Regions from separate parts of the Homo sapiens genome. Here region 1 is linked to region 2. The links come from fine-mapping of genetic effects on gene expression. A gene starts in region 2. The other region holds a variant in brackets. All regions are shown on one strand. Distances are from middle to middle.

What was found. PIP is the estimated chance that this variant, and not a neighbour inherited with it, causes the effect.
Region 1: its variant is fine-mapped to the expression of PSTPIP1 in aorta (GTEx, PIP 0.97).

What each region holds. Positions count from the first base shown.
Region 1 is chr15:76,967,412-76,983,144 of GRCh38, reverse strand. LOC105370904 (a long non-coding RNA gene) reads right to left here and starts at 10,241. Exons shown (of 3, transcript XR_932492.2): 1 at 10,177-10,241; 2 at 9,214-9,390; 3 at 1-161. It also overlaps the pseudogene RN7SL278P and the pseudogene KRT8P23. The variant G/A (reference allele first, on the strand shown) is at 9,578.
Region 2 is chr15:76,988,671-77,004,403 of GRCh38, reverse strand. It overlaps PSTPIP1 (proline-serine-threonine phosphatase interacting protein 1), which reads right to left and starts at 9,278. Exons shown (of 15, transcript NM_003978.5): 1 at 8,795-9,278. The coding sequence starts at 8,830. RefSeq lists a silencer at 9,094-9,283 and an enhancer at 9,524-9,573.

The sequences.
Region 1 (15,733 bases), 21 kb after region 2:
CAAGAGACTCGGTTACACCAGCACTTGTCTCCTGTCTCCTGCAGAGGAGCTATGTTGCTAGGTTTTTAAACTTATGCGGAGGTCCAGATGGAGGGTTGTCAATTTCTTCAGGACACTGCCAGGCCAGAGGTTGTCCAAGTTCGAAGGACACCCAGGAACTTCTGCAAATGGGTAAACCGGAGCGCAGTAAGGGTGAGGTTCTTGTTCAGGGTCACACAGTGAGCTAGTCATAGAACTAGGCATTGGCTGTCAGAACTTCCTGGGACCCATTCCTGCCCATTCCTCTGGCCACATAGTAGCTGGATTCACCTTATGTCCTGGTACTGAACCAACCCTTCCCTTTGGACCTCATCTTCTGGTCTCGACCTTTCCTGTCCACTCCTCCTCTCCCCGACCAAGCTCTCTCCCTCCCGCTCCTTCCCAGTCCCCTTTTTTTCCTCTCCCAGGCAGCCTGACGATCGCTTCCCCACTCTGTTTTGCCCTCAGAGCCCTTTGCTCACCTTCTCTGGTCTCGGACCTTGGTGTTGGTTTTTGCTTTCTGCCCATCTGTCTGAAGGGATCCTGGGGGCCCTGGCTGGGTCAATGTAGGGACACACATGCCTGGGTTGGTGGGTCTCACTCTGCAGCTTCAGCTTCCAGAGGCCAAACGTTTACACCAGTCCCAACCAAGGAGATGCCATGCTATCGCGATAAACAATTGCTGTGCTCTTCTGTGTGCCAGACCCTGAGCTGTGTGCTGCACATTCACGGGCCTTGGTCCTCACAAAACTGCTTGAGGGTAGTATTATCACTTCCATCACACGGACGAGGAAATGAATCTCAGGAGGATGAGGCCATGTGGCCACAGCCCTGTGATTAGTAAGAACCCCAGAGCCGTGTGATTCAAAACACTCCATGCCCACCTTCTCTTCTTCTGTAACTCCCATATCTCCACACAGCTGCAAGGACGAGGCCATAACTGCGACTGGACACACCAGAAAGCCATCTCAGAAAGTCACTCAGGCCATAAGTATCAAGGGATTATTGAGAGATTTTAAAATGTTCACACACTGTGTCCAGAATTTCCATGACTAAAAATCTACCCCAAGGAAATAAGAATCATGGGAAATAATTCTGTACAAAGATATTTGTAACAGTATTATTTGTCAAAGAAAAAACCTGAAAACGAAACTAAATGTCCAAGCCTACTTCTTACACCTGTAATCCCAGCACTTTGAGAGGCTGATGTGGGCAGATCACTTGAGCCCAGGAGTTTGAGACCAGCCTGGCCAAGGTAGCAAGACCTTGTCTCAAAAAAAAAAAAAATCAAAAAATTAGCTGGATGTGATGTTGCATACCTGTGATTCCAGCTACTTGGGAGGTTGAGGTGGGAGGATCACTTGAGCCCAGAAGGTCAAGGCTGCAGAGAGCCATGATCACACTACTGCATTCCAGCCTGGGCAATAGAATGAGACCCACCCCCCCTCCCCCCGCCAAAAAAAAAAAAAAAACCAAAAACCTAAAAACTATGGCATTGCTTTACAGAAAATACATCACAGACATTGAAAATGTTTACCAAGAGTTTTATAATATTATAGGGCAAATGTTTATTACATAATACCAAATAAAAATAGCAGGTTAGGCTGGGTGTGATGACTGACACCTGTAATCCCAGCAATTTAGGGGGCTGAGACAGGCTTATTGCTTGAGCCCAGGAGTTCAAGATCAGCCTGGGCAACATGGAAGACCCAGTCTCTACAAAAAATACAAAAATTAGCTAGGTGTGGGTGACGTGTCTGTAGACCCAGCTACTTGGGAAGTTGAGGTGGGCAGATCACTTAAGCCCAGGGCAGGGGGTTGGGGAGGCAGTGGGGGCGGGGGTGGAGGCTACAGAGACCCTATCTATAACAACTACAAAAAAAGCAGGCTAACAAAGAATAAATAGCCAAATAAATCTTTTTTTTTTTTTTTTTTTGAGACAGAGTCTTGCTCTGTCGCCCAGGCTGGAGTGCAGTGGCATAATCTCAGCTCTCTGCAAGCTCCGTCTCCCATGTTCACGCCATTCTCCTGCCTCAGCCTCCCAAGTAGCTGGGACTACAGGCACCCGCCACCACGCCCAGCTAAATTTTTGGATTTTTAGTAGAGACTGGGTTTCACCGTGATAGCCAGGATGGTCTTGATCTCCTGACCTCATGATCTGCCCACCTCGGCCTCCCAAAGTGCTGGGGTTACAGGTGTGAGCCACCGCACGTGGCCAGCCAAATAAATCTTAAGCAAAAAGGATAAAGCTGGAGTCATCACACCTCTAGCTTTACCTGACTTCAAAATTTACTAAAAAAATCTATAGTAACCAAAACAGCATGGTACTGGCATAAAAACAGACACATAGATCAATGGAACAGAATAGACAACCCAGAAATAAATCCATGTATTTACAGTCTACTGATTTTCAACAAAGCTGCCAATAATGTCCTTTGGGGGAAAGGACAGTCTCTTTAATAAATGGGTATGGGGAAAACTGGATATCTATATGCAGAAAAATGAAACTAGATCCTTATCTCTCATCATTAAAAAAATTAAATCCAAATTAATGAAAAACTTAAATGTAAGACCCCAAACTAGAAAACTACTAGAAGGGACCTAGAAGCAGCTTCTCTGCTCCTTCTTGAATGTCCACCTGGTTCAGCCCATCTGCCTCCACTCCTGCCTCCACCATGTCCATCAGGGTGACCTAGAAGTCCTATAAGGTGTCCACCTCTGGCCCCCAGGCCTTCAGCAGCCGCTCCTACATGAGTGGGCCTGGTGCCCACATCAGCTCCTTGAGCTTCTCCTGAGTGGGCAGCAGCAGCTTCCAGGGTGGCCTGGGTGGAGGCTATGGCAGGGCCAGCAGTATCGGAGGCATCACAGCTGTCATGATCATCCAGAGCCTGCTGAGCCCCCTTAACCTGGAGGTGGACCCCAACATCCAGGCCATGCACACCCAGGAGAAGGAGCACATCAAGAGCCTCAACAACAAGTTTGCCTCCTTCATCGACAAGGTACAGTTCCTGGAGCAGCAGAACAAGATGCTGGAGACCAAGTGGAGCCTCGTGCAGCAGCAGAAGAAGGCTCGGAGCAACGTGGACCACCAGTTCGAGAGCTACATCAACAACCTTTGGCAGCAGCTGGAGACTCTGGGCCAGGACAAGCTGAAGCTGGAGGCAGGGCTTGGCAACATGCAGGGGCTGGTTGAGGACTTCAAGAACAAGTAGGATGATGAGATCAATGAGCGTGCAGAGATGGAGAATGAATTTGTCCTCCTCAAGAAGGATGTGGATGAAGCTTACATAAACAAGGTACAGCTGGAGTCTGGCCTGGAAGCGCTGACTGATGAGATCAACTTCCTCAGGCAACTGTATGAAGAGGAGATCCAGGAGCTGCCGTCCCAGATTTCCCACACGCCTGTGGTGCTGTCCATGGACAACAGCCGCTGCCTGGACACGGATAGCATCATCACTGAGGTCAAGGCACAGTATGAGGAGATCGCCAACCGCAGCCGGGCTGAGGCTGAGAGCATGCACCAGAGCAAGCATGAGGAGCTGCAGACGCTGGCTGGGAAGCACGGCGATGACTTGCAGTGCACAAAGACTGAGATCTCGGAGATGAACTGGAACATCAGCCGGCTCCAGGCTGAGATTGAGGGCCTCAAAGACCAGAGGGCTTCCCTGGAGGCCGCCATGGTAGATGCCGAGCAGCGCGGGGAGCTGGCTGTTAAGGACGCCAATGCCAAGTTGTCCGAGCTGGAGGCCGCCCTGCGGCAGGCCAAGCAGGACATGGTGCGGCAGCTGCCTGAGTACCAGGAGCTGATGAACGTCAGGCTGGTCCTGGACATGGAAATCCCACCTACAGGAAGCTGCTGGAGGGCGAGGAGAGCCGGCTGGCGTCTGGGATGCAGAACATGAGTATCCAAACGAAGACTACCAGTGGCTATGCTGATGTGCTGAGCTCGGGCTACGGGGGCGTCACAAGCCCCAGCCTCAGCTTACGGCCTGGGCTCCAGCTTTGGCTCTGGCTGGAGGCTCCAGCTCCTTCAGCCGCACCAGCTCCATGGTTGTGAAGAAGATGGAGACCCGCGATGGGAAGCTGGTGTCCTAGTCCTCAGACGTCCTGCCCAGGTGAACGGCCATGGCAGCCCCGCCCAGCCTATCCCTCCTGCGGCTGCCCCAGAGCCTGTGGGGGAGGTTGAAGCCCACCCGCAGGGGGAGTTTACTGCCTGGGGTGTCCCACTTGGCCATGCCTCCAGCTACAAGCCAATTCGATTTTTTTTTCCAAAAGAAAACCTCAGCTAGCTATGCCAAAAAAAAAAAAAAAAAAAGAAAAAGAAAAAGAAAAAGAAAGAAAAGCAAAAACTAAAACTACTAGAAGAAAACATAGAGGAAACACTTCAGGACATTGGATTGGTCTGGGCAAAGATTTAATGGAGACCTCAAATGCACAGGCAACAAAAGCAAAAAATAGACAAATGGAATTAGATCAAACTAAAAAGCTTCTGTACAGCAAAGGAAACAATCAACAGAGTGAAGAGACAGCCTGCAGAATGGGAGAAAATATTTGCAAACTATCTATCTGACAAAAGACTAATATCAAGAATACACAAGGAACTCAAATAACTCAACAGCAAAAAAACAAATAATCTCATTTCAAAATGGGCAAATGAGCTGAATAGACATCTCTCAAAGACATACAAATGGCCAACAGGTATATGAAAAAATGTGTGACATCAATAATCATCAGGAAAATGCAAATCAAAATGGTGATGGGATATCATCCCATCCCAATTAGAATGACTACCATAAAAATGACAAAAAATAACAAATGCTGAGGATGTGGAGAAAGATGTCTTATATGCTATTCATGGAAATGTAAATTAGTACAGCCATTATGAAAACCAGTATAAAGTTTCCTCAAAAATCTAAAAATAGAACTAACATATGATCCCACAGTCCCACTAGAGGGTATACATCCAAAGGAAAGGAAATCAGTATATTGAAGAGCTATCTCCACTCCCATATTTATTGCAGCATTATTCACAATAGCAAAGATATGGAATCAATCTAAGTGTCTATCAGTGGATGAATGGATAAAGAAAATCTGGTATACATACACAGTGGAATACTATCCAGCCAGAAAAAAAATGAAATCTTGACATTCACAGCAATACAGATGAGCATGGAGGACATCATGTTAAGTGAAATAAGCCAAGGACAGGAAGAAAAATACCACATGTTCTCACTCATATGTGGGAGCTAAAAAAGTTGAGTGCGTAGAAGTAGAAAGTAGAATAGCGGTTACTAAACCCTGGGAAGGGTGGGGGATAGTGAGAGGTTAAAGGATACTGAATCACAACTAGATACGAGGAATAAGCCCTCGTGTTCTATAACACCCTAGGATGACTATAATTAACAATTTATTGTATATTTAAAAATTGCTAGAAGAGTGGATTTTAAATGTTCCCAACACAAATAAATGATAAATGGGCTGGATGCGGTGGCTCATGCCTGTAATCCCAGCACTTTGGGAGGCCAAGGCGGGCAGATCACTGAGTTCAACAGTTCAAGACCAGCCTGGCCAACATGGTGAAACCCTATCTCTACTAAAAAGACAAAAATTAGCTGGGGATGGTGGTGAGTGCCTGTAATTCCAGCCACTTGGGAGGCTGAGGCAGGAGAATCACTTGAGCCCTGGAGGTGGACGTTACAGTGAGCTGAGATCATGCCACTGCACTCCAGCCTGGGTGACAGAATGAGACTCCATCACAAAAAAAAAAAAAAAAAAAAAAAAAAAGATAAATGTTTGAGGTGATGGGTATGCTAATTACCCTGATTTGATCATTATGGATCATATACATGTATTGAAATAGCACACTGTATCCCATAAATATGTACAATTACTACATGTTAACTAAAAATAATAATAGCTGGATGCGGTGGCACGTGCCTGTAGTCCTAGCTACTTGGGAGGCTGAGGCAGGAGGATCGCTTGAGTTCAGGAGTTCTGGGCTGCAGTGTGCTGTGCTGATTGGATGTCCACACTAAGTTTGACATCAACAAGGTGACCTCCCAGGAGCGGGGGACCACCAGGTTGCCCAAGGAGGGGTGAACCAGCCCAGATCCAAAATGGAGCAGGTCAGAACTCCCATGCTGATCAGTGGGACTGCACCTGTGAATAGCCACTGAACTCCAGCCTGGGCAACATAGTGAGACCTCATTTCTAAAAAAAATTTAAGAAGAAATAGCAGGTTATAAAATTATACAGAAAGGTAGGTCTCAACCATAACAAAGTGCTCTGCAGTTAAAAAAAAAAAAAAAAAGGAAGCATGACTCTTCAGCAGCTCCACTTCCTCAGGGTTCCCCGTGTGTCATGCACACACCTCTAACAGCAATTTCACTCTGACAGTGTCTCTTTGCCTTGTCTCTCTCTCTCTTTCTCCACTGGACTGTGAGCATTTAGGGTGGGGAGCAGTTGGGTTTTAGTTCTCTTTGATAGAGCAGCATCCAGGACAGAATCTGTCCCTGAGTGGATGCTTAATCCACATCTGTGGAATGAATGAGCAGATGAATGAAAGGAAAGGACGGGAAGGCTGGACCAGATCCCAAGCCACTCACTTCCTTGAAATCAGAGTTCCCCCAACCCAAACCCCACTAGGATTCTCTCCTAAAGCCTTTGGCAGTTTTGTTGCCTGAGAAACAAGAAGGCCCTTCTCAGCAGTTCCCCCATCATCCTATGCCTAGGGACTTGGGGCTGGAGGCCTGAACAGCCACTCAGGAGCAAGCTCTTCATCTATCATTTCCTCTAATCTTCATAGCAATAAAATATCAGAATTGTGATTCCTCATTAACATTTGCAGAAACTAAGCCTCAGGGCTTGAAATTTGCTCAAGCTCTTATAGCTAGTAAGTGGCAGAATTCAAATCTCCCTGTCTCCAAAATCCATATTCTTAGAGACAAGACTGCAAAAGTGACCTTGGACAAGCCCCTTCTCCTGCGTGAACCTTGGTTTCCCCTCTGGGTAATGAGGCTGCGGGTCCTCAGAGGGCTCAGCTATCCATTTCCACTCAGATAGTCCACCATAATAAAATGTCCCAACTCATCCTTCCCCAGCTTCCCTGCGTTACTGGAAGCAGCCTGTAACCTACCGGAATGTAGGACTGCAAGCTTGCCAAGCGAGGCCATGTTCACCTGGCTGGAGAAGAGCTCCTGTTTCTCCTCAATGCTGGCAGAAAGCCCTGGGAGCATAAGAGCACCTTATCTGCAACTCACCTAAACAGGTGTGTATGGGGTTGCTGGCCATTGCCTCACATCCCCCCCGCCTTAACCCCCTGGGTTGCCATCTGAGGGTTGTGGAGGGGCTTCATGCTGGCTTTGCTCAGGTCTTATGGCCAAGAGGCACCAAGAAACACAATATCTCCCCCTGCCCCAGTACACACCCCACCCTCAGGGAAAACCCTTATAATAACAGCCCGCACCTGCAGTCTCCCACCTTAGCCTAGTAAGGTAACCAAGACACGGATGGCAGCCGCATGTTATAGCTGGGGATCCTGGGGCTCAGAAAAAGACAGTAATGTTCCAGAGACTATCCAGCAGTTAAGTGGCAGAGCTGAGACTGAGTTCCAGCCCCCAGGCCAGTATTTAGTGCTTTCCTTCCAGAGCCCATGTTAGTCCAGGTCATGTAGCACATTTATTGACCCCTGCCACAGGCAGGGAACCATGAGGCCAAGGAATGGGCAAGATGCAGCCTCTGCCATTGAAGGGTTACAGTTCAGAGGAGCAGAAGGATAAGGTCTCATTCAGGAGTTAATAAATGAAGATTAATAAGATTACAAAACAAGTGGATGAGGTGTCAGAGCAGGGGGGGTCCTAGTGCTGCCCAGGAATGGCGGGCACAGAGTGGGAGCCTGCAGAGCCTGCTGAATGCAAGGCTGGCTGACTGAATAAGGGGCTGTTTCACTACCCAGAGGGATGCAGGAGGGTGGCAGGGAGGGGGGTTGAAGGAGAGAAAGATAACTGAGCAGAGGTGTGGCAGAGGGATGAGGACCCACAGTTTGACATACGTGCAGGATGCACCTCTGAAAGGATAAATAAAGCTGTAAAAATTCAGTAAGGCCACATTTTTGTACCACTTTAAATGCCAAGCCAAGTATTTTCAAAGATTCTCTGCAGATGAAGGCTGCTGTTATAAAATATGGTTTAGAAGCATTAATTTGGCAGCAACACAGTAACTAATCAGAGAAACAACGGCAGCCCCTGGTGGATATGTGGGCAGGGTGAGCCGGAGGCAGGGAGGCAAATGAGGATGCTGGAGAGGCTGGGCCAGGGCCAGCCAGGGACAATGGGAAGGGAAGAGCTGGTGGGTGACAGGGGCTGGTGTCTGACATCGCCTTCCTCTGATCCAACAGCTTGGCCTCCCTGCTGGCCAGCCTCAGCCCCACCCCATCAGAGGGTCAGCCCTGACCCAAGAGGAGAATAAGAAGGCAGCCAGCAGCCAGTCTCACAAGCATTGCTGGTGGTCAGCTTCCTCTCTGGATGAAGCACATTAACATGGTGAAGCTCCTGGCATGCCCCCTGGCATACAGGACCACTCAGCCCCTAGACCCGGGCTTATATCTTTCAGACCCATAAGTGCCACTTCATCTGGATGTGGGACTCTTCCTCCAGCCTGCCAGAGCTGGAGTTAGGACCCTGAACCCCAAGCTGAGCTACATATGGCCCTGATGCCAGGAGCCACCCGGACCTCCTTGTGGGCCTGTGTCTGTCCTCCTCGTTCTTACTGCAGTTAACAATGCTGTATTTGCTTACTTGATTTTTGTCTCTGATATCCTCCAATGTCAGCTCTTCGACACTAAGACCCACACATCACTTGTTCACAATTATATCCTTCAACTAGCATGGTACCTGACACCTACAGATATCAAAAATGGTTGTGGGATGAACGAGTGACTGTTACCCTCATAGTGGGTGCCCTTACCCAGCCAGGGGTCATGCTTATTTCCTAAGGGTCTGCCACCCCCTCCACCTCCACTCTAGGTTGCCTCAGAGGCACTCACACCCCCATGGGGTCTTACTCACCTCCCCACTCTCCTACCCTAATCTCACTGGACTTGTCCCAGGCTGTCCTTAACCATCAGAGTCATGCCATGGGTTAAGGGCCTAAAGGACAAATAAAAGTCCCTCCCCACCCCATCCTCCCACTACTTACTGTGTGGTGGTGTCTATTATACAGAGAAGTCGTGGTTGTGTCTTTCTGAGATAGGGCCATCCTGGGGGCCACCAAGGAAGGCCCCTGCTCCCCTGCTAGAAGGAGGTAGGAAATGGAACTTCTGGGCCAGGCAGGGTAGAGGAGAGCTCAATCCCTCTTGGTCTGCATTTGGAAAATCTGGAAGAATAGAAGAAACTTCTGGAGCCAGGGGAGAAAGATGGCACTGAGATCAAGGCAGGAGACACCCAAGCTCTGCCCCAAAAGAGTTTTCCAGGTTTGGGTGCTGCCGGGAACAATTTCCATTGTTCTTCCCCAAGCCTTTATCTGAATGGTCTTTACCACCCCCACTGGGCTCTGAGCTGTC[G/A]CCTGGCAGCTGCCGTTGGTTCAGGCTGATTCTTGGATGCTGGAGGAACAGCGCCTCCTAGAGCCCAGGAAGGTGGAGCAGCAGAAGTCAGCAAAAGCCCCCTAGACCCCCTGTGTCAGGGCTGCTTGAAGAGCCTGGTGTCACAGCCAGTCTGGACATTTCTGAATTTTATTTAGCCCAAGAAGCCTGAGCTTCCTATGGTGGCTTCAGTCCAGCAGTTAGTGATGCTGTTCCCCTCAGACCCACCCCAGGTGCAGGGGCAGGTGCAGCGATCAAGGAGGCACCACCTCATCCCAGGGTGTCCCTGCTCAAGTCTTCTGCCTGCCCCGCCCTGCCCCAGGCCTCCTCAGTCTTGAGACAAGAGGTGGCTGCTCCCTACCCCGAGCTATGCAGAAGGGGCAAGCTTGGTGTGCAGGACTTTCCAGCGAGTCCTTCGGAGTTGCTGGACCGCTTAACTGGACCTCGAGATAACTTCTCCCAGAGCAGATGGGTGGGGACTGGCGGCTCCTTAGCTGTAACCTTCCTACCCCAAATCCTGTTGTTTCGAGAGTTAATTCTGGAGCCACAGGGAGGATGGGAGGCATTATTGCCCTTCATACCTCCAGAAGTTCTCTTTCAGGCACAGGAAAGGGGTTTTGGCATCTGCCGTGCTTGCAGTTTTCCAGACTGAAACGTCTGTATCAGTCTTATGACTCAGAAATTCTGTTCCTGTGCCTATGAGGAGGGAGCGAGGGGCGGCGGGAGAGTCCGCCGGCCCGGGAGTAGATAAGGAAAGTGGGGTTGCTGCACTGCAAGTACACGCATTATGGATATAATGGATATATCTTAAAATCAAAGTGTTTAATGAGAAAAGTAGGAAACCAAGTGAGATTTTTATAACATAATGCCATTCCTGTAGTTAAAAATACATGCATAGACACGTGCTTATTTTTAGCACTGTGTTATTGCCTCTGGTGTTAATAAAATGAACACATGACTCTCTGGCACCTGTATGGAAAAGACTTAAAATACTTATTTTTAGGATATGAGGTGAACATGTTTTTGTCCAAAATCTGGACATTAACTTCATAGGCAAAGACGATTACATAACATCTCTCTTATGTTAAGGACTTTTTAATCTGGAACTTCTGCATAGTCACATAGCTGGAAGGAATTTCGGTGGTATTTTCAATAATTCAGTACTATTTTTTAAATGTGCTTGAAAATTCTATAAATTGACTTAGGAATACTATACTTAACTGGGAATGTAAGTATACATACTATATTTTTACATATGTATATCCACGATATATTTTGCTCCCCAAATTATTTTTCATCTTCACATTGCATTGGCCCTGAGTTTGAAATAACAAGCTTATTCTAAGCAGAGAGGAAACTGGTGAAGGAAGATGATTTTGAAGAGAGTTTTGAGAAGTATTTATGTTTCTTCTCCCTTTAAAACTCTTGAAAATAATCATAGCCACAATATCCCACTTAAAAACAATTGACAATAATTTTAATATAATCAAATATTCAGCCAGTGTTCAAATTTCTAATTGTGTTTCATATGTCACCAAAAAATTATTTTATTCTGTTCAGATTGTTTGAATCTTGATCTAAATAAGTTTTGCAGGTTGTGATTCTTTTAACTATCAGTTTCCTTTACATGTCTGTCTGTTTTTCTTTACAGCCTATTTGTTTAAGAAACTAGATAATAAGGCCCAGTGCAGTGGCTCACACCTGTAATCCCAGAAATTGGTAGGCCGAGGAGGGTGGATCACTTGAGCCCAGGAGTTTGAGACCAGCATGGGCAACATAGCAAAACCCTGTCTCTGCCAAAAAACAAAACCAAAAATTAGCCAGGTATGGTGGTGTGCACCTGTAGTCCCAGCTCCTCAGGGGGGCTGAGGCAGGAGGATCACTTGAGTCTGGGAGATTGAGGCTGCAGTGAGCTGTGATCATGCTGCTGCACTCCAGCATGGGTGACAGACGAGACCCTGTCTCAAAAACAAAGAAAAGAAAAGAGAAAGAAAGAAACTAGATCATTTATCCTGTAGAGCTTCCCACAGTATAGAATGACTGATTGCATATCCATTGTGTCCTTTAATATTTTCTTCTATCTCCTGTATTTCCTGTAAATTGCCATTTGAATCTAGATTCAGGTCCAATTTTTTGGCAAGAATACTTCATAGGAGGCCTATGAGGTCTGGTTATCTCAATTTGTGATATTAGCAGACATTGCTGATCAGTGCCACTATCCATTAATTAGGGATTGCCACATGGCAATATTCTAATTCTACCATTTCTTCTTGATTTACGAGCTGAATTACTTCTATAAAGAGAAACGTCTCCTTATCTACTATTTGGTTACCCAGTAGTAGTTTGTACAGTATAGGCGGGATAAATGCTCAATTATTTCTCTTTATCAGTTTATGAACCACCGAATACTCCAAAGGTGACCAATTAGATATGTTTTAGTATCATTATGAACTCATGGAGTTAAACATATTTGATGTGCTTCAATCCATTGCAATTTTTGCCTTTATTGATGCAAAAATGGTCCCATCTTTGGCCAGAGGGGGCCTCTTCAAGTTGACTCCTGAGTCCTTTGGACACCACCCTAGCTGTCTTAGAGAACTTTCTTGCCATCTGATATGGCCAATGTTCCAGTCACCTGTTGTCCATTTCCTGTCTCAGACCTGGAATCAATCACTTTTTCAGGGAACACTAGTTCTTTTACTGGGTATATTTCAAGAAGATAATCTAGGTACTGGGGTGCTCATAGCTACTGAAATGCTTATTGTTCTTAGGTCTTTTCTGAGGTCAGAACTAGGAAATACATTTTTTCTCAATATAAATATAAGGCACATCATAAGTTCATATTGATACTTTCAATTAAATTTAGGTCTACAGGGTGTTTGCACAACCTCTTCCTTCTTCCATCTGTACCTCCTTTCTCCCATGTCCAGAATCTCATTTCTCAAAAACACCAGGAATTCCAGAATTAGAATTTCACATAATTTCTCATTTGCTTCATTCCACACTGCACACAACAGTCTCAGAACACCAATACCAAGTCTCCCATCAGCCAAGTGACTGCTGAAAACAATTTAAGATTTTCGTTTGTGTATTTGCAGTTCTTTTTGTCTTCAGGCTATATCCTTTTGGGGTTGTACAGTCAAATTACTGTGTTTAGAACAGTTCATCTGTGTGCTGACTCCACCAACCAGATGCACATTATGTTTATTTGCTTCTTTTTGGGGGGATTCATTTTTATGTAATTTTTTTACTTTTATGAAATATTTACTCAGTTCCAAAGTCACATGTACAAAACAAGCTATCTTCAAATAAGTCCAGCTTCCATCTCTATCTCTTCCGTTCTGCTCCCTCTCTCCTCCTACAGGTAGCCACTTTTCATTGCTTTATCCTTCCATTGCTTGTGTGCTTTTAAATATAAGCAGATACATTTACATGTTTATATATTTGCATCCCTGCCTTCCTTAGAGAACTGTGAGACACACATTCCTTTTCTTAATGATATATTCTATATGGAAACAGTCTTCACTTCTTTCTCCAGCTACCTAGTACTTCTTGGCATGGCTGTACCATAGTTCATTCAGCCAGCCTATTGACAGACATTTGGGCTGTTTCTCATTACAAATAGTCCTGCAACTAATTGCCTTTTTTGATTATGTTTTGTTTTGAGACAGAGTCTTGCTCTGTCGCCTAGGCTGGAGTGCAGTGGCTTGATCTGGGCTCACTGCAACCTCTGTCTCCTGGGTTCAAGTGATTCTCCTGCCTCAGCCTTGTGAATAGCTGGGACTACAGGCACGCGCCACCATACCCGGCTAATTTTTGTATTTTTTTAGTACAGACAGGGTTTCACCATGTTGGCCAGGCTAGTCTCCAATTCCTGGCCTCAAGTCATCCACCCACCTCAGTCTCCCAAAGCGCTGGGATTACAGATGTGAGCCACCACGGCAGGCTTGCCTTTTGTATTTTGATCTGAGTTCATTTTAGATGCAAATCCTGTACATCCTTATTTCACAGAGTTTTTCTATATTACCAATGTGGTCAAGACTCTCCCCTGCTTAAAACCCATCAACAGTTTTTGATCATTCATAGGATAAAGTCCAAATTCAGCTTGACAGACAGCACCCACCAGACCTGCCTGGCCCCTCATATTGGTCTATCTTCTTGTCAGAGGCATTCGAACCAGAGCGACTCCATTTTGAGTAAGGGCTAGGAAAATGGGGCTGGGAATTGCTGGGCTGCATTCTCAGAAAGTCAGGCATTCCTGGCCTCTAGATATTTACAGTTAAGGGAAAAAATTAATAATGTTTACTAAACAGACCCAGACGGGAATGTCCAGATATCCTGATATCTGGAGAACACAGGCATTCCTAATTTTGCTTTAAAGATAATAATATCAATTCTTGCAAAATATCATAATTAAGAAAATTAATCCTTTATCACAAACCCTTGTAGCAGAGCACATCTCTCCATATATACAAGCATTGTACCCAGGGTGGACGCCTTCCTCCTCTTACTTTCGGGAACGTCCTGCTCTGTCTATGGAGTAGCCGTCCTTTCACCACTTTACCTTCTTAATAAACTTGCTTTTACATTGCACTGCGGACTTACCCTGAATTATTTCTTGTGCAAGATCCAAGAACCCTCTCTTGGGGTCTGGATCAGGATGCCTTTCCTATAACATTCTGGCCCTCTCTACCCAGCACCTCTCATGCCCCTCTCTACCAAGGAGGAAGCCCACACTTCCCTGACTCTGGGCTGCCCACACATGCTCTACTCTCTGCTTAGAAGGCTTGGTATCCTTCTTTTCTTCACCTGGCTAACTGTATAGCCTGTGTGAACTTATCAGTGTCAATTCACGGATTTCCAGGCTGTGATTTTCTTTCTTTCTTTTTTCTTTTCTTTTCTTTTTTTTTTTTTTTTTAAAGAAGATGAGGCCTTTAGAACCTGGGCTGTGATTTTCTTATGTCCATCTCCTCCTCACTGATGGCACCTTCAGAGCTGGGGCTGACTTAATATCCTCAATGGCTGGGCACAGTGACTCATGCCTGTAATCACAGTGCTTTGGAAGGCCCAGGCAGGAGAATTACTTGAGCTCAGGCATTTGAGATCAGCCTGGGTGACATAGCAAAACCCCATCTCTACAAAAAATTAAAAAATTAGCCAGGTGTGGTGGCTGCTTCTGTAGTTCCAGCTACTTGGGAGGCTGAGGTGGGAGGATCTCTTGAGCCCAGGAGTTCAAGGCAGCAGTGAGCTAAGATGGCACTACTGCGCTCCAGCCTGGGAAACAGAGCAAGACCCAGTTTTATACATTTTATATACATATATATTATATATATATATACACACACACACATACATATACATATATATTTTATATATAGGTATATTATATAGGTATATTAAATACACATATATAGGTATATTATATAATACCTATATATAGGTATTATACATATACATATATATGTATCTCCCCAGTGACCAGCAGAATCCCAGTGGCTCTGTGGGCTCAGTAAATGTTTGTGGAATTAATGAATACTTGTCTTGCCTTTCCTTTCAAATAAACAAAAACAGCTCCAGGTTACAGCTGTGTCTCTTGCCAACCAGAGAAGCAGCTGCACTATAACGAAATCTCCTTGGTGTTATTCTTTTTGTTATCCTTCTGAAGGGAAAACATTTTACTCTTGTTAGGTGTTTATGAGAAAGACTGGAGCTATCATCATTGTGGGGGTGGGGAGGGGGTGAGGAGGGGGTGAGGAGGAGACTTTCTAATCCAGAAACTCAAGTAGTCCAAGAATTTTATGACAAAGTTCTGGTTCTGTTGGAAAAAACAGACTCAGAGCCAGCAAGTCTGGGCAGACAAAGGCAGGCCCTGGCTGGCGGCCCTCCCCTCTGTGGCAAGTCCATGGGCCTTCTCACATTTGGCCCCTTTAGAGTCTGGGAAGTCCCCCAGGTTCACCTCTGAAATCCCACCACCAGGGCAGGCTCTGACAGTCTCCTAGGCTACCTTCAAGACAGGTTTCCCCCAGCATGGCAAAACCAATTCTACCCCTGCCCTTCCCATTGGCGCAGGCTTTGGGGCTCCCTGCCTTTTCTCCTGTCTGCACCAAAGGTGGTGAAAGGCTTGGTTAAACTCAAATT
Region 2 (15,733 bases):
CACATCCCCACACTGGCTGCTGGTCTCCAGGGCTCCAGCTGGCACTTCCTGTTGCCCAATGGTGGGTGGCCTGTCAACACCAGTGGAAGGAGCTGTCGCTCTCCTGCCTGTTCCATCACCCATTGCTCAGTGTGCCAGGCCTCAGCAAACCAACACACCCTCCCATTAACTGCAAAGGGCTCTCTGACCCAGACCTGGGAAGGTGGCATCCAGGCCCAGCCCAGTCCGATCCATCTGTGTGGCATCCCCCAGGCCCACATTCCTTCCAAGAGGCTCAGTTTCCTCTCTGTAAAACAGGAATAAGAATACTGACCTCACAGGACTATTGTTGGAATTAAGTGAGATAACATAGATCATCTTGTTACTTGAAACCAAAGGAATGATTCTCTAATGGTGGAGTATAACATGCAATGGTGAACATGATTGGAGGAGGCATTCTGAAACAGCAAGATCTATGTATAAGGCTCACCCTATGGGTGCATATCCAATTATAAATCTGGGTCCCCTGGGAACTGTTCCTGGTCTGCTACTCCACTGTGGTGAGCAGGAGGTGGTCCCTTAGCACTGCCCTGAGCCGCCCCAACCTCAAAGCCCTTATCTTAAGTGATGACGACCCTGACATCCTGCAGATGAGGAAACTGAGGTTCAGAAAGGGAAAATGATTCTCCAAGGCCACCTAGCAAGTGTGGGTGAGGGTTGGGTGAGGCTTCAAAGAAGCCCGCTTCCTTCTTCTTCTTTTTTTTTTTTTGAGACGGAGTTTCGTTCTTTTGCCCAGGCTGGAGTGCAATTGTGAAACCTCAGCTCACTGCAACCTCCACCTCCTGGGTTCAAGCGATTCTCCTGCCTCAGCCTCCTGAGTAGCTGGGATTACAGGCATGCGCCACCATGCCCCGCTAATTTTTTTGTAGTTTTAGTAGAGACAGGGTTTCACCATGGTGGCCAGGCTGGTCTCGAACCCCTGACCTCAGATGATCCACCCGCCTCGGCCTCCCAAGAAGCCGATTTCCTTCTAAGCCTGGAGGATGGAGCATGACTGAGTCTGTGAGGGAGGAACCTTCCAGAGCCAACCCAGAGGAGAGTCCTGGTGTGGGCAGCCCAGGGCCCAGGGCATCATGCTCTCTAGCTGGAAGCAGAGGCAGTCTTGGTTTCCACCCAAAGTTCCCTCCATCATGTGGTTTGCAGCGTCAGCCAGGCTCTGGGTGAGGAGGAAGGGCATCCCACTCACAGCCCGCAGCCTCTGTCCTCTTTTGCATGAGAGGAAACAGCCACCACCAGAGAGGGTGCAGAGAGGCAGAAGAAAGTATCTCTGCCACCACTTAGGGCAGAGACCTTTCACAATCCAGCTCGTGCCTTCCCTTCCTACCAGTCACCTTGCACAATGCTCTGGGCCAGAAAACTGTCTTCCAAACCCCCTTCCACACCTTTGCCCATGCCGTACCTCCCACCTTGAGTGCCGTTTGTCCTCCTGACATGTCTCAAATCCTCACCCACCCTTCAAAGCCCAAAGCAAGGCCCTCCTTCTCCATCCCAGGGGCTGCCCTAGTTCTGTGTAGATGTCAGGAGCAGCCAGGAAAAGCATGTGGGTTCCAGGGGACTGGAGCACAAAGTGGGTCATCAAGAAGCAGATCTTGTTTTTTATCAAGAATAAAATTGAATTCAGAACACCAAATCGACCCAGAACCCTGCAGCCAGCAAATCCTGGCAGTGACCATCTGCAGGCATCGCAAAAGCAAAGCAAGCATGACCACAAACCTCTGCAATCTTCTAACACCTGAGCAGCCGGCCACGTCCTGTGGAATGGGCACAGATGAACGAAGTTCTTGGTCCCCAGAGGCCCACGTACCACAAAATATGCACCGAGCATGTGGAAAAGGGCATGCTAGCAAACCACAAATTTGGCCTAGAAACACCAACTCATTCTTGAAAGCAGGAATTGCTTAGTTTTCTTTTTAAATATTTTCTTTTTAATGACAAAGGTACTCTGTATTGACTTGCAGAAAATTAGATGGGGGATGGAGAGAATCCTACTTCCAAATCCATAGACACCAGTGTTAACATGTAGGGAAGCATCCTTTCATCCTACACAAATTAAAGTAGAAGCAAGAACAAACTCTCTAGAATTCAGGGCAGAGGGCAATAGAGTTCGACAGACCTAGGTGGGAGTCCCTGCTCTACCCTGCACAGGTGACCCTCGTCTGGGCCTAGACCTGCCGTGCCTTAGGTCCCATCACAGAGTCAGGAAGACACTGACAATGCGTTTGGGGGCATGTGGACTGAATGGCAGCATGCCTGGCATGGAACAGGCACTCAGCAAATGGCAGCATTGCTGCTCCTCAGGGGATGATGTAAGTAGCTGGGATTCAGGGAAAAATTCTTCATGGGACTTGAAATAAATGTCCTCTTTTTCATTTTTAATTGTTTGATTTAATTTTTGAATAATTAATACATTCATATGGTTCAAAAATCAAACAGTATAAAAACATCAATCCTGAAAACGTTCACAGCCGCTCAGCCTCATCCCTCATCCATCTCCTTTCTCTCATTCTCCCAACAGGCAACCACTTTAATTAGCTCCCTGTGCATCCGTCCACAGATTTTTGTTGTTAATACTACAAGCCTGCGCCAGTATAAATGCTTATTTCCCCACTTTTCACAACGGGTTGCCGACCAGGTGCACTGCCAGGCTCTCTGCTTTTTACAGGGAACACCAGGTCTTAAAGAGCTTTCCCAATCAGGAAAGGGAGAGCCTCCGTCCTCACTGCTTCTGACAGATGCAGCCAGGCAGGTGCCGGGAAGGTACTTGGTGGCAGCAAAGGCAGGATGGCCAGGGCCTCTCTCTCCCACCTCCTGCACTGTCTGCAAGCTCTGAGTGCACCAGGGCCACTCCTCAGCCACTGGCCTCCTTGGCCCTCAAAGCCACAGCAGTTTGCTGGGCTGCAAGGCCTTCCACAAAGTCAGTGCAGGCTCTGGTTTCCAGCAGGGCCCCATCCACAGGCCCTGACCCTTCCAGGCCATTCTGGGGTCCCTCCTTCCTGTGTGAAAAAGCTCCTGCCCAACCAGAGGACTATGGGGGATCCCAAAGTGACTGCTAGTACCCATGGCTGGAGAACTGGCCCCACTCTTTCACCCAGAAATGCCTCCTTCCCTGGAAAATAGCCATTAGCCTCCTCTGCCCAAAGAAATAATCCCCAAGTGAAAAACCTTTATAGTCAAAGATCTACCCATGGTGTCACTGTCCAGAATAATAAATAATTGGCAGTAACCTAAATGTTCAGCAGTGGAGGACTGGGCAAAAAAAATCACAGCATGGTCACCAAATTCACAAGCTAGAGAACTGTGCAGCCATGAACAGTGGTGTTGCTGAAAATGAGGAACCCATGTCCACACCCACAGGTGTTCCCGATGGAGTGAGTTACGCTAAAAAAAGGGGAGGGTGGCAAAGTGTGAACAAACCTAGCGCTACTGAACCATACACCACAAAAATGGTTAAGATGGTACATTTTATGTGTATTTCGCTACAATTTAAAATAAAATTTAAAATACTAGAAAAAAAAAGGAGGGAGGGCCGTGCATGGTGGCTCACGCCTGTAATCCCAGCACTCTGGAAGCCAAGGCAGGAGGATTGCTTGAGCCCAAGAGTTTGAGACCAGCCTGGGCAACACAGGGAGACCTCATCTCTGCAAAAATAAAAAATTTGTAAAAGAAAGGGAAAATACAAAATTATGTACACAATATGCTTGCACCTATGTAAGGCAATCTTATGCAAACACAGCATAATATTAGCAGTTGTGTGATGAGACTAAAGGTGCTTCTTCTTTTCCTATTTTTCTCCATTTCCCCACTTTCCTTTTAGGATCTTATATTAGTTGATTTTGTTTCTTTAGAAAGTGTGTGTGTGTATGTGTGTGTGTGTGTGTGTGTGTGTGTATATATATATATATATCTCTCTTTAAATGCCCAGGATGGAACAGGTGCCCAGCAAATGTCAGGCTCTCCTGATGCCCCTGGGCCATGGTAGACAGGTCTGGGGGTAGGGACAGGCAGCTTTATGACAGATCAGAGTAGGGCCCCTCAGTCCCCTTCTCTGTAGCCTCATAAATGGGCACCTCAGCATCTCAGAACTGGGAAGGGAAAAGGCACCAGTGGCTGAGTGCCACATAGGGAAGGGGCAGACCAGCCCAGCTGGTCCCACTGTGTGAAGCTGGTGAGTCACTGCCCCACTCGGCAGCGGTGCTGTCACCTGTTAAATGGGCTTGGGGAGGCTCAGCTCCTCCCAGTGTGGCACAGGGGTTTCTAGATAGAGCCAGAGCCCAGCCTCAAAGGAGAGATACACCCACATGTCAAGGGGAAAGTTCAGGCCTATTGTCCCCATACCCCCTTGGTGGTTCCCACCCAAAGGGTGGGTGACAGTCACTGCAGTGCATGTGACCCAGCCTCCCCAGGTCCTTACTTTTCCTTTTAACTACCCTAAAAGGAATAGGATGTGGATCTCAATAGAATCTGGTCCAGAACTAGATTTTCCCTCTTAAAACAATATCTAATGACATCTTTGCAAAGGCCATTGGATAGACATACAGGTTGCGGGGGATGGGGGACCTGGGAGAGGATGGCACAGTTGAGATACTGCTCCTCTCAGAGCACTCCTTGCCTGACCCAGTTATTCCTCCAGCCCCGGCACTGAACTATGGCTTCCTTCAGGTCAAGACAGTTTCATTCATCTGATTAGATGTTGCAGGGTGAAGAAGCTCAGGGGTCCAGCGTGGACCACCTAGTAGACAGCCCTACTCACCAAATATTTGCAGAATATAACAAAAGTGAAATGTAGTGCTGGGCGCGGCGGCTCACGCCTGTAATCCCAGCACTTTGGAAGGCTGAGGCGGGTGGATCATCTGAGGTCAGGAGTTCGAGACCAGCCAGGCCAACATGGTGAAATCTCATCTGTACTAAAAATACAAAAATTAGACAGACGTGGCGGCGCACGTCTGTAATCCCAGCTACTCGGGAGGCTGAGACAGGAGAATCACCTGACCCCAGGAGGCGGAGGTTGCAGTGAGCTGAGATTGTGCCACTGCCCTCCAGCCTGGGTGACAGAGTAAGATTCTTTCTCAAAAAAAAAAAAAAGTGAAATGAAGTAAAAAATGGGTTCAGGAAGGGAGATGGACCATGGAGACATTCACTGTCCATTCATTTATTCTATGAACACGTCCTCAGCCAGTACCCCACTTGTCAGCCCTGTGCAGAGGATACAGACAGACATTTCTTGCAATAATTTGGCCACCTGCTGGGAGTGGAGCCACGACAAACTGGGGGCAGGGGGAGGACCCTTCCTTCTCTGGGCTTCCCAGCGCCTTAGACTCAGTGCTAGGCCAGTGCCCTCTCCGCTCAGACAGCTGGTATTCTCAGATTCAACCTTGTCTCACTGACAGGTCCCACTCTGAGGCTCATTTACAAACTTCCTGCCAAGGTGTGATGCTCTTTATCATCTGTGTGTATCACAGAAATCACATTATCCCTTCCCTCCCTCTGTGGCTGGTCCGCCCTGCCTCACTCCTACAGCAGCGTGCATCTGAACACTCGGCTGCAGCTAAAATCAGGCTATAAATAAATACTGTGTGGCCACACTGACAAAATTGCAAAAACAGGCCGACTGAGGGACAGGACTGTGTCTGCTCCCATGCTGAGTGTCCCCACTACTTCTGTGCCACTACAGCTGCTTTTCAGACTGTTTCTGTCTCCTTCCTTGCAATCAGGCTGCTAGCTGCCTGTGAAACGTCCTTTCGTAGTCCAGGTCCATCAGCATTTATCCATCGCCAACTGTATATCAGGTACTGTGCAGACTGCCACTAATTGCTACATCTATAGGCTAAAAGACCCCATGACCAAGCTCATTAAAATTGTGGGTGAAATTAGAGTTCATAGGACCTGAGTAAAAGCTAGGGGACATCTCCTAGGAGTGTAGTATATGAGCTTTAAGGAAAGCTCTTAGGGAAATCATCTTTGGCTCCTGAGAAACCACTTTTGCTTCCTCCCTTACTGTGAGCTAAAGCCAGAAACAGCAGGGCTGGCTCCCCTCCTCCGCCCCGTGTTCTGTATGGGTGAGGTTGCCCAATAACTGAGGGGCTGTGATATCAAACATGATCTTTCCAGTTTAGCCAAAGTAGGGTCCCTCCACTCTGTCAGCTCTGTCACCCAGGCTAGAGTACAGTGGCACAATCTCAGCTCACTGCAACCTCTGCCTCTTGGGTTCAAGCTGTTCTCCTGCCTCAGCCTCCCAAGTAGCTGGGATTACAGGAGCATGCCATCACGCCTGGCTAATTTTTGTATTTTTAGTAGAGACAGGGTTTCACCATGTTGGCCAGGCTGGTCTTGAACTCCTGACCTCAAGTGATCCATCCACCTTGGCCTCCCAGAGTGCTGGGATTACAGGCGTGAACCACTGCACCCCGCCTAAAAACCAGTCATTTCTAAACAGTGTGCTGGCAGGCTGAAGGGTTTAATGACAGTGCCTTGGGCTGGGGTGGGGGAAGGCCCAGACATGGGCCAAGCTGGCTGGGCTGTTCCTAATATAACACCTGTGGCCAGAGTAGTGTGCCTTTTCTGTTTTACAGATTTGTCTACAAATGAAGCTTCAGAATATTGTTCTAGCCACCTTGTCTGATTTTCTTACCCCTCTGGGAGATAAGAGGGGTTACCTCTTATCTTACCCCGAAGCCAAAAGATCCAGTGATATGTCAGATAGACAGAGGGATCCTGCAACAACACAAGTGCTAAAGCCAGCCTGCCAGGGGTTTAATCCCAGCAGTGTGACCTTGCGCAAGTCTCTTAATATCTCCGTGCCTCAATTTCCTCATCTGAATAAGAGAGATAACAGTAGCATGTGTTTGAAGGATTGAATGAGTGAATATGCATACATCTTGAGAACAGCGCCTGGCACATCTTTCGTGCTCAGCAAATGTTAGTTGTTATGCACTGGGATGGGCTGAGCATCAGGAAGAGGTATTAGAATCCAGAGCCCTGGGGCAGGTGATGCCTACAGTGACCTTTCGGGGCATCGGCCCAGACTCAGTGTGAGAGGTTCCCACTGGCTACTTCTCTCCCCTTCCTGCTCTGGCCTTCCCTAGGGAAACTATATGCCCGCCCCAGGCTCAGGGAGCCAGACACAGAGGAGACAAGGCACTTGGAGGCCAGGAAGCCCAGAGGTGCGACGAGCACAGAGTGTGGGCAGGATGCCGCTCAGGAAGCTCCACAGGGGCTGGCTGCTTGCTTCTGCTGCGGCTGCCATACCCTGCTCCCTTATACGCCACCCCTACCTGTGCCCAGATCCTGCCATGGAGGCTGCTCCTTGCCCAGCTCTGCCCTAGGGAAGGCAGGCCCAGGGGCTCTAGGACTGGACAGAGGTCTCAGTGATAAAATAGTCAAGGGGTCCTGGCCTGCCCTGGGCTACAGAGTGGCCTGGGTTTCCAGGCCCTACCCCTTCCCCCAACTTTGCACACCAAGGCAGGGCAGCTAGGTGGTGACTCACATCCCCCATCCCCCAGGGCTCCAGCTGCCAGCCTGGGCCCTGAGCATCCTGGTGCCTGGTCCTCCGGATGGGCTGAGGCAGCTCTGCCTCCATTGGCTTCTCTGGGCTGGGCCCACCCTGTCTTTGTAGAGATGGGGAAACTGAGGCCCAGAAAGGCACAAGGTGCCCTCCCCACGTGGGGTCCTTTGCCTACTGTACAGTCAGAGCAGAGGAAGCAGAACACTCACACGCTGGCCACAGGCCCCAAGTGGAGCCGGCCGGAAGGGAAGGAAGGCCTGGCTCCATAGCTCTCATCCTCCTGGCTGCAGCCCCAGGAAAAGGCCCGGGGAGGGCAGGGCTGTTGGCTGGGGCTCAGCCGGCTGAGCCGAGGGCCAGAGCGTCCTCTTCGGGGTTGGAGGCAGCACCCCGGGACAGCCACATTCCCCAGCTCCAACCAGAGAGGTCTCAGTTTTTCCCCAGAGCCCTGGGCACAGCCAGAGCTGAGGGGCAGAGGGGTAGTTGAAGGACAGCTGGAAAAGTGCTGAGATGACCAGGGGTCCAAGCTGGGCTGCAGGCTACGTGGCCCGGGCCAAGCCACTTTACCTCTACCACTGGCTGGGCGCCCTTATTTCATGGGGGAAATGACTTGATTTAAGCCCGTGTTGAATTTAAGAAAGTAAGCAAGCCATTGCCCACCTGGCTGCCTCCTTGAAGGACCCCTAAGGTCTGCAAGGGACAAGGGGCTGGGTGAGGGGAACAGAATTACCATTTGGAGTGAGGCAAGGTGCTGGGGGCTTTAGTGCCTTGGATCCCCTTGCTGATCCAATGCTTTAGTTGGTGTGTTGATTTCTATTTTATCACCATTATATAGATGGAGAGACTGAGGCTTGGAGACAGAAATGACTTGCCCAGCCTGTAACAGAGCCAAGACCTGAACTCAAGTTTGTCTGGTCTCTAAATCTGTGACCCCTCCTTTGCTGCCCCACACATCCTCCTCAAGCCCCCACCCATGTGTTACCCTCTTCTGAGGAGCTCCTGCTGTGGGGAGAGGTCTCCCAGAGGAGAAAACACACGGGGCAGCAGAGAGGAGGACGCTCATTCACGGAGTCCACTTGCGTTCCAGTCCAGAAGGGGTGGGGGCCTGGGCCACCTCCATGACAATTAAGACCAAGAATCAACCACTATTTTATGAGAAAGCTCCCCTCTCGGAGCCGCATCCCATCACCTGCATGGAGATTTCAGCCTAGCTCTGCCCCCTCCACTTGTTCAGTGCCCCCAACCATCCTCACTCACCCAAAAGGCATCTTTGAACTGCAGCTGGGGCATCATCCTCAGGCGTCTGCCGCGGCAAAGCTCACTCTCCTGCCACAGGCTGGCCTGATGGAGGGCCAGGCGCCAGCAGCAGCGTCCCAGTCCTGGCAGGGCTGGCCCAGGCCCCCCTTCCCGGCCGGCGCCGTCTGCAACACTCAGAAGGCAGCCACGAGCCAGAGAGGAGCTTCTGAGGGGAGGAAAAAGCTCAACCTGTTTTGTTTGGGGCTAGAATCAGCAGCAAAATGAGGAAGGAGTGGAGCTCAGTGATGGGAGGGCGGGCCCTGGTGTCCAGCCCAGCCCCTCACCGACCCTGCGGTGATGGAGGACACAGTCTGGGACCCAGGGCAGGGAGCAGGGATGCCAGCCCTGGGTGGGAGGCAGTGGCCAGTGGAAGAGGCAGGCTGGAGCTCGGGCCGGGCCAGGCAGGCAGGCAGGCAGGCAGCCCGAGGCCTGCGCAGGAAGGTTTGTGCAACCTCCCCCGGGGCAGGCACAGGGCCCTCGCCCACAGGAAGTGGAGTTGCTGTGCTCCCCTGTGCAGCCCCGCCTGCCACCTGCCATCCTGCTCCTGCCTCTGCTTGCCCCCTCCCGAGGTGCGGGCTCACTTTATTCCAGAGGCCATATGCTAAGGGAGCTTGAGGCCCACTGACAGTGTGGCCAGGAGGGGCCCAGGAACCCCAGGTGTGTCACCCGCCAGCCAGTCCAGCACCCTTCCAGGCTGGGCCCAGAGATGCCAGACTCCCCACCCCGCACTAGCAAGTCATTCTGGAGGGGCTTACCCAGGTCTAGGGCATCTGTCATTCATCAAACCCTGGCTGCTCTGGGACCCAAACCAGGTCCTGCCCTCAAGGAGCCCATAGTCTGGGAGCAGACACAGCTGTGCTCTGGGGGGCTGTGAGCACACAGAGGCAAGGTGAGCAGGCAGCAAGATGAGGGAGAACAGCCTGAGGCCCCGGCACTGCCCCCACCACCACCACCGCCACCACCGCAAGTCTCCAGATTAGACGCTGTTTGGGGCAGAGAACCCCCTTCTGAAGATGGAGGCTTCCGGCTCAGTGAATGGGAATGGATGGAGAGAGAAACAGGATTATCAAGGCACAGAGTGGGGTGTTTGGAAACCCAGTCTGAGGCCCAGTTTTTGTTTAATTTTGACCCCACCTTTCAGGGGCTGAGGGACCTTAATAGACCCCCCAACTCGCTGAGCCTCAGCTTCCTCATCTGCCACACCCAGTCTTTGGAAAGTAGACGGTGTCGAGAATATTTCTGGAATTTCCAGTTTGGTGGGCAGGTGCTGGGGGCACTGTGTGGTACCACCTTAGGAAGAGCCCTGGACTAGAGCCCCAGCCCCAGCCCTGAGACGCCACGCCCTGCCGGCTCAGCAGAAGATGCAGCAGGAAGTCCTGAGCCCAGGGCAGGCTGGCAAAATGGGGTGAGTCAGGGATTGTCCGCAAATCACCACCCTCACTGATGTCTGCCTTACAGCTGACGGGGTGATAAGATGAGAGCTGCTGCAGATGAAATAGTTGAGCTCCCAAGTGCCCATTATGCATGCCCAGGGTTTAGAGAGAGGGGGCACACCCAGGCTCTGAAATAGCCACCCAAGAGGAAACACTTTGGGGAGGATTGCAGAGCAATGGGACTGCCCCCAGAAGGCCCTCACCTCCAGAAACCTTGGATTTGAGCTAATCTTTAATCTGTAAGGCGCCCCAGTCAGGTTTTTTGTTACTTGCAGCTGAAGACAATTAATAGTGTAAAAATCCCCTTGAACTTTGTAGGCCATAGAGTGAGCCAGGCTGCACCTCACCTCCCAATGGCACCACCACCTCTGATAGCACTGGCTCAGCCTCCCTGAGCTCAGTTTCTCCATCCATCAGATGGGATGATGCCTCTAGGTCTGGAGCAGACTAGAGACCCTCTGTTAACAGAAGGCTCCTGCCTGCTTATTGGCAGAAATTTTTACAGCTGGGCTCCCTGCCCTGCCTCTCTAGGTGTCCTTCCCATCACCTCCCAGAGACTTCTGCTCCAGCCAGGCCTCTTCCCTCTCCCTGGAGGCACCTTTCCCACTCCCACCTGCTCTGTTCCCAGCCTCCCTTCTGGCAAGCCTTCCTTGATCTTCCTTACCTGGGCAAATCCTCCCACCCTCAAAGCCAACCTCAAGGCTCCCACACATGAGGCCTTCCTTTCCCAACTGTACCTGTCCAGCCAGGGCAGCCCCGGATGGAGGGCCATGCTGGTGACGGGCTGGAGCAACTGGGGAAGGAAGTAATGTGAGGAACCTCTGGAGAGACTCTGCAATTCTCTACTAGAGAGGCCTTCCTCCTCCCCTCCCTTCCACCCTTACCTGTTGCAGGTCCCCAGGCTGGGCGACCAGACAGCCAATTCGGCTTTGGAGTACTTACCCAGCACCGGGTACATCATTCTGCTTTTCACACGGACCACCTCAGTTACACTGTCATTATCCCCACTTTACAGAGGGGCAAACTAGTGATTAAAGAGTGTAAGTAACGCACCCAAGTAGCAGGCAATAAGCAGAAGGCTGGGCTTTGGTCCTAGATCTGTCCGAAGCCAAAGCACACGCTCTTAACTTCCACAGTTGTCTTTTACTAACAGCCCTCTATTCAAAAAGCGTTTCATTGTTCCTTTCTCCAGTTCTACCTCGAGACCCTCTCACCCAAGTCAATAAAAGGAAAAACAATCTAGGGAAGCCACCGGGGCTGATGGTGCCATAGGAATGAGAGGCCAGCCTTTAGCACATGCTATTCTGCATCACTGTGTTATTCGCATCAGTTGAGGATGCTTTTGGCTGCAAAGAACATAAACCAGAGGGTCTGACACAGAGGACGTGTGCTGTCATCTACACAACGGGGCTGGAGGCAGGGCAGCCTCCAGCTGTGGTACATGAGGGCTTCAGCTCAGTCTCTCTGAGTTTCTCTTGCATTTACGATCTTCCTCCTTGGGCTGGAGGCCAAGGAGCTGCAGCAGCTCATCTACAACTCCAGACACAGCCACAAGCAGAGAAAGAAAAGGACACCTGCCCTTGTGTCTCATTTTCTCCAAAGCCCCTGCACCCTCCCTTCTGCCCAGCTCCCCAGGAGACCTTCCCTTGTGTCTCCTTGGCCCTAGGTGGGTCACGTGCTCATACTTCCCCATGGTTGGCCTTGCGAATGGGCAGCCGGGGATGCCGAAAGCCAACCACGTGACCACCACAACCTTCTCCTCAGCCCAGGCACACAAGCACTGCTGAGCACCAACTCCTGCAGGGTCCTGCTGGGACCGGGGCCTCAAGGGGAGGCAGACTTGGTTTTTGCTCTGAGGGGCCTAGAGACTGACAGACAGGTTCTAGGGAGTTCTTTCTCCATAAGGAGTGGCTCAGAGCGGGTGAGACCAGAAGAAGATATTGTGATGACTTTTACAGGAATGAGGTCTGGTTGGGGCAGGTGCGATGGGGCTTGAGTGGATTGGTGGGATGTCAGGGAGATGGAGGAGCAAGACTGAGATGTCTGAGTGCCCCTCAGAAAAGAGTACTGTCTTAGGGGGCCCCTATTCACACCAGCCCCACCCACACCCAGGCCCAGGCCCTTGGGGAGAGGAATCCATCCCTGAAAATCACCGCTTTTTAGTGACTGTTCCAGCTGCTTCAAAACAATTTGCCTTGAGGTCTGTGCAGTTGTGCCTCAGGCCAGGCTGTGGGGGCATACCCCTCCCAGGCAGAGCCCCTGCCTGTTTTGCCTGGTATCTGAACACATCTGCTTGAAGAATTCAAGAAGCAGTAGCTACAAGGATTGAGAATAAAATGCAAAATCAGTTTTTATAACATTTATTGTCACAGCCCCCACCACTGACTGGCAGGACTCCGCTCCTGAAGACACTTCATCCATCCCTCTGAGCCACAGAAACAACAAAACCAGTAACAACAGCTGCCACAGAAGGAGGATCAATATTTACAGGACCTCCATCACTTTCACAAGCTTGATCTCACTGATTGCTCACTGCCTGGACAGCTACATAATTTGCGAGTCCAGTGCAAAATAAAAATGTGAGACCTCTTACTCAAAAAGCAGGGACAAAATTGCCGTTAAAGGTACTAATCTATAAAACTTGTTTCTTTACTGCAGTCTCTCTCTCAACCTGGAATGGTGTTTTTGATTTGTTATTTAACGTTACACTCCCTTGGGCATGGGAATATCTGTGGGACAACTTGCCCCGCCCCACCCTCTGACTTGACTCAGTTCTGTGTGAAATTCACCAGTTGCTGGACTTCTCCTCCTGTCAGCCACCACGCTGATCTGCATTCTGCGTTCCCCAGCGGAGGTTGGGGAAGTCAAGCCAGGCATTGCCATTTCCCATGGACCTGCCTCACCAACCCACAGCGGACAGGCAGTCCCCAGGGGTGTTGCAAAATCCAGGCCAGGATGCACTAGGAACCAGGGTCAGAAGTGAGTGAGAGGCTCAGCCCCCTGAGTCGCCTGTTGAATTTGCCATGGTGTTGCCAGCCTGGGGCAGGGGCCACATTGCCATGGCCAATCCTCAGATGCTACCAGGTGTGCCCTTGACCCGGACTGTCCCCATGCCTGCACTCAGGTCTCTGCTGGGGGCAGAGTGTGGCAGTGGTTGCTAGGCAGAAGTGGAGAAGACTGAGAACAAGTCCAGGGGAGGCAGTTGGAAGCAGGACCACAGGAGCCAAGGCTCCAAGTCCTTGATGTATGCTTCATTGTCCCACCAGACTGTACTTAAGAAAAGCAAATTCAAAAATAATGTGATTAAGAATTCCAAGACAGCAATCTCAGAGCATTAGACCCCAAGTACAATTTGCTTACACGAGTTGTACATCTATGAAACCAACCCTGCTCACTCCTGTCTGCTCTCTACACAGCAGAGTGACATTTTCAGATCCACATTTGGTCATATCAACGTCCCACTGTCACCTTGCCATGATTTTCCATTACTCTCAGGACAATGGCCATTGCCCTTACATGGCCTACAGACCCTGCATAATTTGGTCCCAGCCTACTCTTCAAAACTTCAACTCCCATTATGCCTCTCTCAATTTCTGATACTGCTTCCTGGACCATCTTTCAATTCCTCCATTCTGCCTCATTCTCTTCTTTCCCGGGTCCTTCACACATGATCACCCCTCTGCCTGGAAGCTTCTTCCCGTTCCATCCTAGACCCTGCCTTGGCCCAGCTAACTACTCCTTATCCCTTGGCCCTCTTATCAAATGTCACCTCTTCAGGAAAGCCTTTCCTGACCAATAAATGGATGGACAAATGGACAAAATGCAGGCAAGATGGAAAGCAAATAAACATCTTTTTTCTTTTTTCCTTTTTTTTTTTTTTTTTTTTTGGGACAGTGTCTCGCTCTGTCGCCCAGGCTGGAGTGCAGTGACACAGTCTTGGCTCACTGCAGACTCTGCCTCCCAGGTTCAAGCAGTTCTCCCAGCCTCAGCCTCCCAAGTAGCTGGGATTACAGGCATGCACCATCATGCTTGGCTAATTTTTATATTTTTAGTAGAGACAGGGTTTCACAGTGTTGGCCAGGCTGGTCTCAAACTCCTGACCTCAGGTGATCTGCCTGCCTTGGCCTCCCAAACTGCTGGGATTATAGGTGTGAGCCACTGCACCTGGCCGAATAAACACCATTTTGAAGGAAGTTCAGCCAAGTTCTCAGGGGCTGGAAGAGAAGACGTTGTTGGGGGAATAGCTCTCAGAGGTGAGGCTGACACCAAGCTGGAGGGCGGGACTGCACTCTGAGGGTCCTAAGATTCTAATTTGTTATCCAGGAAGAATCTAAAGCGAGAGCTTCCAGCCTTCTGAAGAGGGGCAGGGGCTGGAAAGAAGAGGGAGAGAAGGAGGGTCTGAAAGCTCTTTGGTGACATTCGAAGAGCCAGGAGGCCCTTGCCATGAATTTCATTTGGAGATGGCATTGCCACTGGTCCAAGGGGTAGGGCAAGTGACGCACGCTTCTCCCTTCTGCAGGGGAGCATCTGTCCTGCAGGAGTAATTCTCAACCTGCCATCAGCTTATGGCCAGAAGGGCATTCATGAGTCGGCCATTTAGACCTCGGTGGATGCACTGTCATGACGCTGCCCATGGCTGTAGGGTTGTGCACCCATCCCATGGCTGAAGTGGGATGTTCCAGCACCTGGCCATGATGGTTCACTATTGCTGGGGGAAATACCTGTAGGGTCCCTCCAGGTGGCCAGAGGCACATGCCTACTGTACTGGGGCAACCACTGTCCACCCCACTTACCCTGTCCCAGATTGGAACAAGCTCCACTGCAGCACACCCACCAGCACTGACTGAGCCTTCCTGTCTGGGAACATGCAAATGAACAAGCTCAGCCCCTGCCAGTCTGGTGAGGGAGGCAGCCTAGGAAGGGAAAATGTGCTGTGCGCAGACAACAGAGAAAGGCTGTTGAGGAGCCTGGCCTGGGAAGTCCTCCCAAAGGAGGGGAGCTGGGTCTTGATTAATGGGAAAGAGCTCACCCGTGAGGCAGGAAGGGAGTTCCAGAATAACGCTAATAGTCTACTAGGGCTGTGCTGCATCAGGCTCTGCTGTAAGCACTTCCCATGCCTTATGTATCACTTAATCTTCCCAACAACAGTGTGAGGCATTACGGCCACATTCAACAGATAAGGAACCTGAGGCTTAGACAGGTCAGTTAACTTTTCGGAGTCCCATCGCTAAAAAGGGTCTTTCCTCCCCAGAGTGTGGGGCTGGCAGTGAGGGGCCAGGGCCTGGGGCAGAAACAGGATGAGGAAGAAGGGAAAAGCAAGTCCCCACTGAGGAGGAAGTGCAGAGCCCATGCGGGGTGGGGGTGTGGCGCTCAGATGGAGGCTCCTCTCCTCTGACTCCAGGAAATATCCTTGCCCCAGAGTCCTCCACTGGGGCTGAGGGTGTGGCCTTTGGCCTTCAGGATGTGA